2 separate regions of the Homo sapiens genome follow, and region 1 is linked to region 2. The links come from fine-mapping of genetic effects on gene expression. A gene starts in region 2. The other region holds a variant in brackets. All regions are shown on one strand. Distances are from middle to middle.

Region 1 (5,000 bases), 53 kb after region 2:
TTCACTTATTTCTAGGGGGTTTGTTTGTTTGTTTTTGTAGACTCTTTGAGATTTTCTATATATATAATCACGTCATCTGCAAATAGGAAGAGTTTTGCCTCTTCATTGCCAATCTTTTATTTCCTTCTCTTATTGCACAGACTAGAGCTACCAGCACTATGTTGAATAAAATTGGTGCTTTATTCCCACTATTAGGGGCAAAGCATTCAGTCTTTTACCATTAAGTATAATGTTAGTGGGTTTTTCATAGTTGCTGCTTATCAAGTTAAGGACATTCCCCTCTATTCCTATTTTTTCTTACAGGTGTTTTTGTTTGTTTGTTTGGTTTTTGTTTTTTGAGACGAAATTTCGCTCTTGTGGCCCAGGCTGGAGTACAATGGCACGATCTTCACTCACTATAACCTCTGCCTCATGGGTTCAAGAGATTCTCCTGCCTCAGCCTCCTGAGTAGCTGGGATTACAGGCATGCGCCACCACACCCGGCTAATTTTGCATTTTTAGTAGAGATGGTGTTTCTCCATGTTGGTCAGGCTGGTCTCGAACTCCTGACCTCTGGTGATCTGCCGGCCTCAGCCTCCCAAAGTGCTGGGATTACATCACACCAAGTCAGGTTTTTTTTTTTTTTTAATTATTAAATGGGTGTTGAATTCCGTCAAATGTCTTTTCTTCATCATTGCTATGACTATATGGATTTTCCTCTTTATACTGTTAACATGGTGGATTACATTGATCAATTTTTGGATATTGAATCAGCCTTGCATCCCTGAAATGCAACTGTATAATTCTTTTTATATATTGCTGGAGTCCATTTGCTACTATTTTGTTAAGGATTTTTGCTTGTATATTCATGCAGGATATTGGTCTATAGTTTTCTTTTTGTTCTACTGTCCTCATCTGGTTTTGATAATATTAACCTTATAAAATTAATTGGAAAACATTTTCTCTCTTCTGTTCTCTGGAAGAGATTGTGAAGAATTAAATTCTTCTTTAAGTGGTAGAATTCTCCAGTGAAACCATCTGGATCAGGAAATATTGAGAGGGAGGGAGGATGGTTTTATTACAAATTCAATTTTCTTAATAGTTATAGGGCTATTCAAATTAAACTAATACCCTAAAATTAAACTAATTTAAACTAATACCCTAAAAAAAAAACCTCTACACATATAAACTCATACTGGATGAGTTAGGTAGTTTGTGTTTTGAGGGGAATTGGTTTATTTTATTTAAGTTGCCAAATTTATGCATGTAGAGATTTTTTGGAGGATATTAATTTCTTGGGGCTGCTGCAACAAATTAACACAACTTAATAACTTGAACAACAGAAATTTATTCTCTCACAGTTATGGAGGCCAGAAGTTCAAAATCAGCATCAATGGTCAAATCAAGGCATTGGCAGGACCACACACTTTTCAGAAGCTCTATAGAAGAATTCATTTTTTGCCTCTTCAAGTTTCTGGTGGCAACCAACATTCCTTGGCTTGTGGCCACATTGCTTCAATCTCTGCCTCCATGGTTGCATTCCCTTCTCTTTTGTCCACAACTCCCTCTGTTACTCTCTTATAAAGACATTTGTCATTGCACTTAAGGTCTACTAGGATAATCTCATCTCAAAATCCTTAATCGCATCTACAAACGCTCTTTTTCCATATAAGGTAATATTTACAGGTTCCAGGGATTAGGACCTAATTAACGCTTTGGAGGTCTACTGAGGCTGACTAATGGCCTCCAAACATAATTCTCTATTTCTTTCATTTTTTTTTTTTTTTTTTTGAGTCTCGCTCTGTCGCCCAGGCTGGAGTGCAGCGGCGCCATCTTGGCTCACTGCAAGCTCCGCCTCCCGGGTTCACGCCATTCTCCTGCCTCAGCCTCCCGAGTAGCCAGGACTACAGACGCCCGCCACCACGCCTGGCTAATTTTTTGTATTTTTAGTAGAGACGGGGTTTCACCGTGTTAGCCAGGATGGTCTTGATCT[C/G]CTGACCTCGTGATCCGCCAGCCTCTGCCTCCCAAAGTGCTGGGATTACAGGCATGAGCCACCGTGCCCGGTCATAATTCTCTATTTCATTTTATTTCCCTATTATTAAGTCCCACGGTGTTTCCCTATTATCCTTTTGATGCCTACAGGGTCCATGTGATATCTTTTCTTTCATTGCTAATGTATTTCTCCTCTTTTAAAATTTGTCAGTCTTGCTAGAGATTTATTGATCTTTTCAAATAATTAGCTCCTTGTTTCGTTGGTTTTCTCCTTTTCTTTTCAGTTTTCTGTTTCTTTTTTTATTTTCAATTTCATGGATTTCTGCCTTTTTTTTTTTTTTTTTTTTGGAGACAGGGTCTTTCTCTGCCGCCCAGGCTGGAGTGCAGTGGCATGATCATAGCTCACTGCAGCTTCCAGCTCCTCAGCTCAACTGAGCCTCCCACCTTAGCCTCCCAAGTAGCTGGAACCACAGTTGTGTACCACCATGATAGGTAAATTTTTAATTTTTAACGTTTTTCAGAAATAGGGTCTCATTATGTTGCCCAGGCTGCTCTCAAACTCCTGAGCTCAAGCAATTCTGCCACCTTGGTCTCCCAGAGTGTTGGGATTACAGGTGTGAGCCACCATGCTCAGCCCTGCTCTTATCTTATTATTTCCTTCCTTCTGTTGGCTTTGGATTTATATTTTTCCCAAGTTCTTGAGGTATGAGCTTAGATCATTGATTTGATAAAGACTTTTCTACTTTTCATTTATTTTCTTTTTTCCTTTCTTTCTTTTTGACACAGGATCTCGCTCTGTCACCCAGGCTGGAGTGCAGTGGCACAATCTCAGCTCACTGTAGCCTTGATCTCCCCAGCTCAAGTGATCCTCCCACCTCAGCCTCCTGAGTAACTGAGACCACAGGGACACGCCACCATACCTGGCTAATTTTTGTATTTGGGTTTGTTTGTTTGTTGTTGTTTTTTTGTGTGTGTGTTTTTGTACAGCTGGAGTTTCGCCATGTTGCCCAGGCTGCTCTCGAACTCCTGGGATCAAGCGATCTGTCCACCTTGGCCCCCCAAAATACTAGGATTACAGGCATGAGTTACCATACCTGGGCCTCTACTGTCCTAATATGTGCATTTAATGCTATACATTTTCTTCATCTGTGTCCCACAGATTTTGTTACATTATATTTTCATTTCACTCGCTTCAGTGTATTTTACAATTTCCCTTGGCCAGGTGCAGTGACTCACACCTGTAATATCAGCACTTTGGGAGGCAGAGGCGGGTGAATCACATGAGTGCAGGAGTTGGAGACCAACCTGGGCAACACAGGGAGACCCCATCTCTACAAAAAAATCCAAAAATTAGCCAAGCGTGGTAGTGTGATCTTGTAGTCCTAGCTACTCGGGAGGTTGAGGCTGCAGTGAGCTGTGATAGCGCCACTGCATTCCAGCCTAGGCAACAGAGCGAGAGCCCATCTCTAAAAATGAATAAATATATAAATGTATATTTTTATATGTATTATATAATAGTATAATATATTATAATAGTATAATATTATACTATTATATAATAGTAGTAGTATATATTATGTATTATACTATTATATAATATATAATACATGCAATACATATACATATATGTGTATTTTTATACATGTATTATATATACACATACAATATATAGATGTATATATAATATTGTATATATAAAATATTTTATATATACACATATATAATTTCTCTTGAGACTTCCCTTTTTCGTCCATGGAGTACTTAGAAGTGTGTTGTTTAGTTTCCAAGCATTTGGAAATTTTTCTGTTATCTTTTTGTTATTGATTTCTAGTTTGATTCCATTGTGGTCAGAGAACACACTTGGTATTAATTCAGTTGTTTTACATCTGTTTGTTTTATGGCCCAGGATATGGTCTATTTTGAAATGTGTTACCTGAGTAGTCGAAAAGAATGAACATTTTGCTGTTGTTGGGTGAAGTGTTCTATAAATATTCATTAGATCTTGTTGGTTGATGATTTTGTTGAACTCTTCTATATCCTTGTTGATTTTCTGTCTAGCTGTCGTATCAATTGTTAAGAAAGGAGGATTGAAGTCTTCAGCCCCAGTTGCCGATTTTTCTATCTCTCCTTTCAGTTCTATCAGTTTTGGCTTCATATGGACTGCAGTTCTGTTGTTTGGTGCATACACATTTAGGATGATTTGTTTTCTCACTAGATTGGCTCTTGTATCATTGTACAATGTCTCTGTCTCTAGAAAAGTTTCTTTGCTCTGAAGCCCACTTTATCTGACATATATACATGCACAATATATATATGTATAGCTACTCTCCTGCTTTCTTTTGTTTAATGTTTACATAACCTATCTTTCCTATCTTTTTTCATCTTTTTACTTCCAACCTACCTTTATTGCTATACTTACAATGACTTTATGCACCACATCTAGTTAGGTCATGTTTTTTAATCCACTCTATCAATTGCTTTTAAATAGATATCAATCTTTTGCATTTAGACCATTTACATTCAATATAACTATTGATATGTTAGGGAATAAGCCTGCTGTTTTATTTTTTGTTTTATGTTTTTCTCTCCTTTTTTTTTTCCTGAGATGGAGTCTTTGTCTATTTCCCAGGCTGGAACGCAGTGGCATGATCTCGGCTCACTGCAACCTCCGCCTCCCGGGTTCAAGTGATTCTTGTGCCTCAGCCTCCTGAGTAGCCTGGATCACAGGCACCTGCCACCACACCTGGCTAGTTTTTGTATTTTTAGTAGAGACGTGGTTTCAATGTTGACCAGGCTGGTCTTGAACTTCTGAGCTCAAGTGATCTGCCTGCCTCGGCCTCCCAAAGTTCTGGGATTATAGGCGGGAGCCACCGTGCCAGGCCCACTTTTCATTTTTCTATTTTCTTTTCCCTGCCTTCCTGTGGGCTACTTGAACATTTTCATTAGAATCATCTTTTTATTTATCTGTAGTATTTGGGGATATTTCTTTACATGTAACTTTTTTTTTTTTAGAGGCAGTCTCACTCTGT
Region 2 (5,000 bases):
GCCACAACACAAGAGGCTGGGCGTAATTAGGAGGTCCCCCAGGATAGTCAGGGGTCACATGCTGTTTATCTCTTACAAACAAGATTACTAAAATATTAGGGAGCAAATCCTTCCCCTTTAAGTTCAGCATTTGGTATTCCCCAGCCTCTAACCTTGGCTAAATCAGCCCCAAGTAGAGCTGGGTCCCTGAGGAAATGGAATAAGTGAGTCAATAAGGGACACAAAGGAACATTCTATTGCCCAGTCCCCATTTGCTTGACTTATAGGCAGCTTTAGTTAGGAGGCTGTTTCCAGATAGTCTTCCCTTCCAGGAGTTCTGGTATGGTTTTTAGTCCCTGGGAAGCTGCTTAAGCCTGATTTCCTTCCATTGCTGGTCCAACTGCTGGCCAGTCTAAGATCAGCTTTCCCCAGCAAAGCTCTTCCCACGTTCTCAGGCTCCCAGCTGCTGGGAAGGAAAGACTGACTCCCACTGGGAGCCCAGACCCTACAGGTAATGGTGGGGAGAGGACACTGCCACCGGAGTGTTTTTACAGGTGAAGGCTGGCCTGGCAAAATGGAGATGTCAGCCAAGAGAAAGGGTGAAGACCTACGTAAACTGACTATATTTGGCCTCGGCATTTCCCAGACACCAGCTCCTTTGATCTATCCAAATTGTAGTTGTTAACTTGGTGTCTGAGGAGTCTGAAACTCTCTGAAATTGTGGGATTTGGTGAGTACTACATACGCACATTTTTTTTCTGGGTAGAGGGGAATCAATATTGTTCATCAAAATTTAAATTATCATATCAGGGAGTGGCCCCAAAATGTTAAGAACCTCTCATCCACCATTCTTACACAACCAACCAAAAATGTAATGCAGAGGGAGGCATTGTAATATACTTGGGGATCTGACAAGACAAATTAAAAGGACAAACAATTTATTGTTCCACAAGGTTGAACAGATACTGTCACCTGGACTTCTTGGAACACCAGGAACCAGGTCACAGGTGCTGGGGACTCTTAGACTGAGACCAGTCAGGCCACAACACCCAATCACTACCTCCTCCATATTTGCCTGTGCAGACAAGGAGTATGCAAGGTCTCTGTGTCTCTAATTAAATTAATATGGAGCTTTTATCCACTGGGGCCTGGACCTTCCGCCATTTGTCACCTTGTCCAAAGCTATCTCATACCGAAAGAGAATTGAACGTTTCAGGAAACACTTCCCCTTTGCAAATGCCCTTCTCTTGGGGAATGGGTATAGTGTCCAAATCTCCAGCTCCCACCATTTCTAGCCAGCCCTGAGGAATTGTCTGAGACCCGGGAGCCCAGAGATCATCAGCGGGGGCCAACAGCCATGACCTTTGAGTTTTCTTGGCCGCTGGGCCACAGAAAGGGTGCAAGAGGCAGCTGGACAGGTAGACAGAAGTAGGCACAAAGAAAGGGGCCCTGGACGGTTGCCAGAGAAAAGACGGAGAATGACAAAGAGAGAAGTGAAATAGCTGGACTGGAGGCGGGAACTGGAGCGCAGCAGGCAGGTGGAGTGGCCAAAACCCGCGTGCTAAGAAGAGCCCACAGGGGCGGCAGGGGCGGCAGGGGCGGCAGAGGCGGCCAGGCGCGTCTCCGTTCCCCATCTTTACGGGGAGGTTAATGACCTCCTCAGCGCCCCCTCGTCCCAAACCACCCAATTACAACTCCTCAGGCTCCTTAATGATCTGATTAATTGGTTGGTTAGGGCGGATGGAGGTGCTTCTCTGCCGGGGACCTGGCGGGGTTTCGCTAGATCATTTGTTAATTGTGGGAAGGAAGGACGCATCCGGGGAGAGGAGATCCAGGGCTGGAAAAGTGGGTGAGCGGCGCTGGCGCAGGCGGCCAGGAGAGAGCAGATGAACCGTTCGTTAGGAGCAGCGAGGTAGTCGTGAGCGCTGAGATCCAGAGACTAGGACCCACTCCCTCTCTGAGCAGCAAATTGGGAAGAAGATGCTCACTCGGTAAGGGCGAGGGAGCCCGGCATGGCGCCCCACCACGGGCTCGGTCTATCTGCGCGCCAAGATCCCGCTTGGGGCGAGGCGTTGGGTCAGCGTTTAGAGCCACTCCCTGCGCTGGTGGCTGGACATAGCCTCCCTATCCCACCTCATCTTCCCCCATCCCCGACAGAGGAGGTTGTGAATCTACAGGCCCTTGACGTTGAGGCGTCGGAGGGCGCACCTTTGTAATTGCGGCCTCCCTTCGCCCCTTAAGTGCCGCTTCTGGGCGCCTAGGCTGGATATGAAAGCCCCGTTCCTAATCCTCTGCTCTGGTCCCCTCCTCTGGACTGCTGGGACTCTAAGCTAGGCCCTCCCCAGGTTCCATCACTGCGGCGCCAACCCGCGGCTGGGCTGTCCGCAAGAGGGAGTTGAAGGCGCGCGGAATCCCGAGGTGCAGCTGACCCTCCTCTCAACGCCGACTCTGCCGCTCCCGCCCGGCCACCTCCCTGTCGGGCAGACTTCCTGTTCTCCTGCTCACAGCAGGGAGGCAGTCGCCGAGCCGGTCAGCAGCGTGCACGGAGATCTTCACTCTGCGCCCAGCCCCGGGACACAGGTGCAGATCTCCAGCGGAGCACTGCGGAGTGCGCGCCGTCGAGCACTAGGGAATCCTAGACGGAGGACTTGGTCCATTCCACGCAGTCCCAGGCAGGTCCGCAGCGGAGGGACGCAGCGGTCTCCAACTCCTGGTCACGACTTCGGCGACCCTCCACCCCCTGAGAGACCTGGTCCCACGGAGCTGTCCCCCCAGGAGCCGCAGCGGGAATAGCAAAGCAAAGGGGACCACTCAGCCCCCAGGAGGAGCCCTGAAGCAAAAAGGTTGCTGCGGGGAGCCACGTTCCCTCTGGTTCACCTCGAAGCCCAGGAGCTCCGGTCCCTGGACCAAGGAGTGAACAGACCTGAGGAAGAGGTAAGAGGAGGTTTAACGAGTAAAAATTTGGACTCTCTCCTCTTATACTGCTTTAAAGCATGAGGAATTTGGGCCCTGACTTCTCTCTCCTTGAAGAAGTTTCTCGCGTTCTGGCCAGTCCTTGCGTGTCTGCACCCAGGGCCGGCAACAATTTAAGGAGGAACTTTACTGGGTGGTCGAGGCTTGAGAGTTCATAGTTACCTTTTAAAAAAATCATTACTATTACTTAATATCTAGGTTATTTTGGACTGAGCCCCCATCTTCGCTCCAGCCCAAATTCGGCCTTTAACAGTACTAGGGAGTGCTTCAAAAGAGGAGGGTCGTGGAGGAAGCGACTCAGACGGCCCCAAGAGGAGAGATGGGAAGGAGTGAGGGCTTTGGCCTTAATGATCTCTGCAAGTTAAAGGCCATTATTCCTATAACTACAGCTGGGGAAAGGGCAGAGGAGGTAAGGACGGAAAGTGGGCTGAGGGTGGCCACTTTGGCATCTTCTTGAGAAAGGAGACATTTGAATTCCCGGCCCAACTAAAAGCCCTGAGATGCTTGCCCTTTGCTTTACAGACAGTGATGGCAAAGAAATACTGCCACCAGGGTGTTTTTAAAGGTGAAGGTTGACCTGATAAGCACTGAGATCAGACAAAGGAAAAAAAAAGTAAAGCATTTGGTCTTTCAGTTTTCTGGCTAAATCTGGCATCATTTTCCAGACACAAACTTCTCTGATTAATCCAAATAGCTCTCAACCTGAAGTTCAAGGAATTTGAAATCCTCTGAAATTGTGGGATTTCACAGTTCTAAAAGGAAGTCAGCTGTCACTTTCTGAGAAGCCCTGGGAGGGGAAGGAAGCAAGAGGAGGTATATGAGGAAAGGGGGTGAGAGGCCCCAGATCTAGCTCTCTAGACATTTAGTGCTGGACCCCCAAGCTCTGAAACTCAAGCTGACCCCATCTACACATTGCCAAACTGAGTAGAAAGTTGCAAGGCAGTCAAGGAGATAAATTTTATTTACTGCTTTAAGGATGAGTTTGGGTGTCTAAGCAGATTATAAATCTGGGTGTTTTCAGTATTTGTTTCTTTCTTTCAACTATTACTGATTTTTGGCCCAGAGTAGTTTCTGGGGCCCTTGGGGCAGTTAGGCAAGAGAGGGACTCAGACCTCCAGTCCCTTGATCTTGCCTTTACTTGGTGAAGAGCCCAAGATTCTCTACTGGCAGGCAAGGTCAGAACCAAGTTGGCCCTAGGCCTTGCCCCAACCCCCCAGCCCTCAGGACTCCTTTCTCTGAGACCAGGCCTCTGGCCAAACTGCAGACTCCCTCCACACCCGGTCACTGGAATAATGATGGCATTTTTGATTTCTCCCATTTTTGAAAACTATAGAAGCCCCAAGGAGGAAGGAGGTACCACTGGATCTTGGGGTGCTGGTGGGGGATTCTGGAATCAAATATCCTCTAAGCCTGTGAGGACAAGGTCTACTAGGATGACTTGGTGTCAATTACAGCTCTGAGTGCTGCCTGGATAGGTCAAATATTCCCTCCTTTCCCTCCTCATTCCTTCCGTTCAAGCCCAGAAAATTCACAGATTTTCTGTGTGGAGAGAGAGAAAAAAAATGGGCAAAACCTGGGAGTAAAAGGGAGATGAGGGAGAAGAAAATGAGGGAGAGAAACCAATAGACTAAAACAATGAAACTCTCTAACCCAACAGCACTTTAAGCTTGACTTTTAATCTGGCCAGAAAAAAAAAGAAGTTGGAGGCAGGGTGGGTGGGATGTGAAGTTCCCAGCCCAACAGATCCTCCTGTTGTCACGGGCTCTGTGCGTTCCCAGCTGGTGAGAACCCTGTCTGTCCTGGGGGTGGGAGGGATGTCCTGGGTCTTTCAAGTTGCAGTGTGGGGAGTGAGGCTCTTTCTAAGGGTCTCTGAGGTCTCCCACAACACCTTGCTTGGACTAGCAAAACCTTTCTTTGCATTTCCTCTGGGGCACTGTGTATGTGTATCCCTGTGTAGGGTGGTGTTCTAAACCACCGCAGAAGGTGAGCAATTCTCCTCCCAGCGAGCCAAAGGCTATATGTTTGGGGTGGAGGAGGCTTCATCCCTT

What was found. PIP is the estimated chance that this variant, and not a neighbour inherited with it, causes the effect.
Region 1: its variant is fine-mapped to the expression of LINC02086 in whole blood (TOPMed, PIP 0.97).

The regions. Positions count from the first base shown.
Region 1 is chr17:48,693,379-48,698,378 of GRCh38, forward strand. The region is part of intron 5 of LINC02086 (long intergenic non-protein coding RNA 2086); the gene reads left to right. Among named protein-coding and RNA genes, the nearest start is that of PRAC1, 27 kb to the right of the region's middle. The variant C/G (reference allele first, on the strand shown) is at 1,973.
Region 2 is chr17:48,640,166-48,645,165 of GRCh38, forward strand. It overlaps LINC02086 (long intergenic non-protein coding RNA 2086), which reads left to right and starts at 2,462. Exons shown (of 8, transcript NR_189645.1): 1 at 2,462-5,000. All of the region lies in intron 1 of LINC03057 (long intergenic non-protein coding RNA 3057), which reads right to left. RefSeq lists enhancers at 1,061-2,059, 2,060-3,056.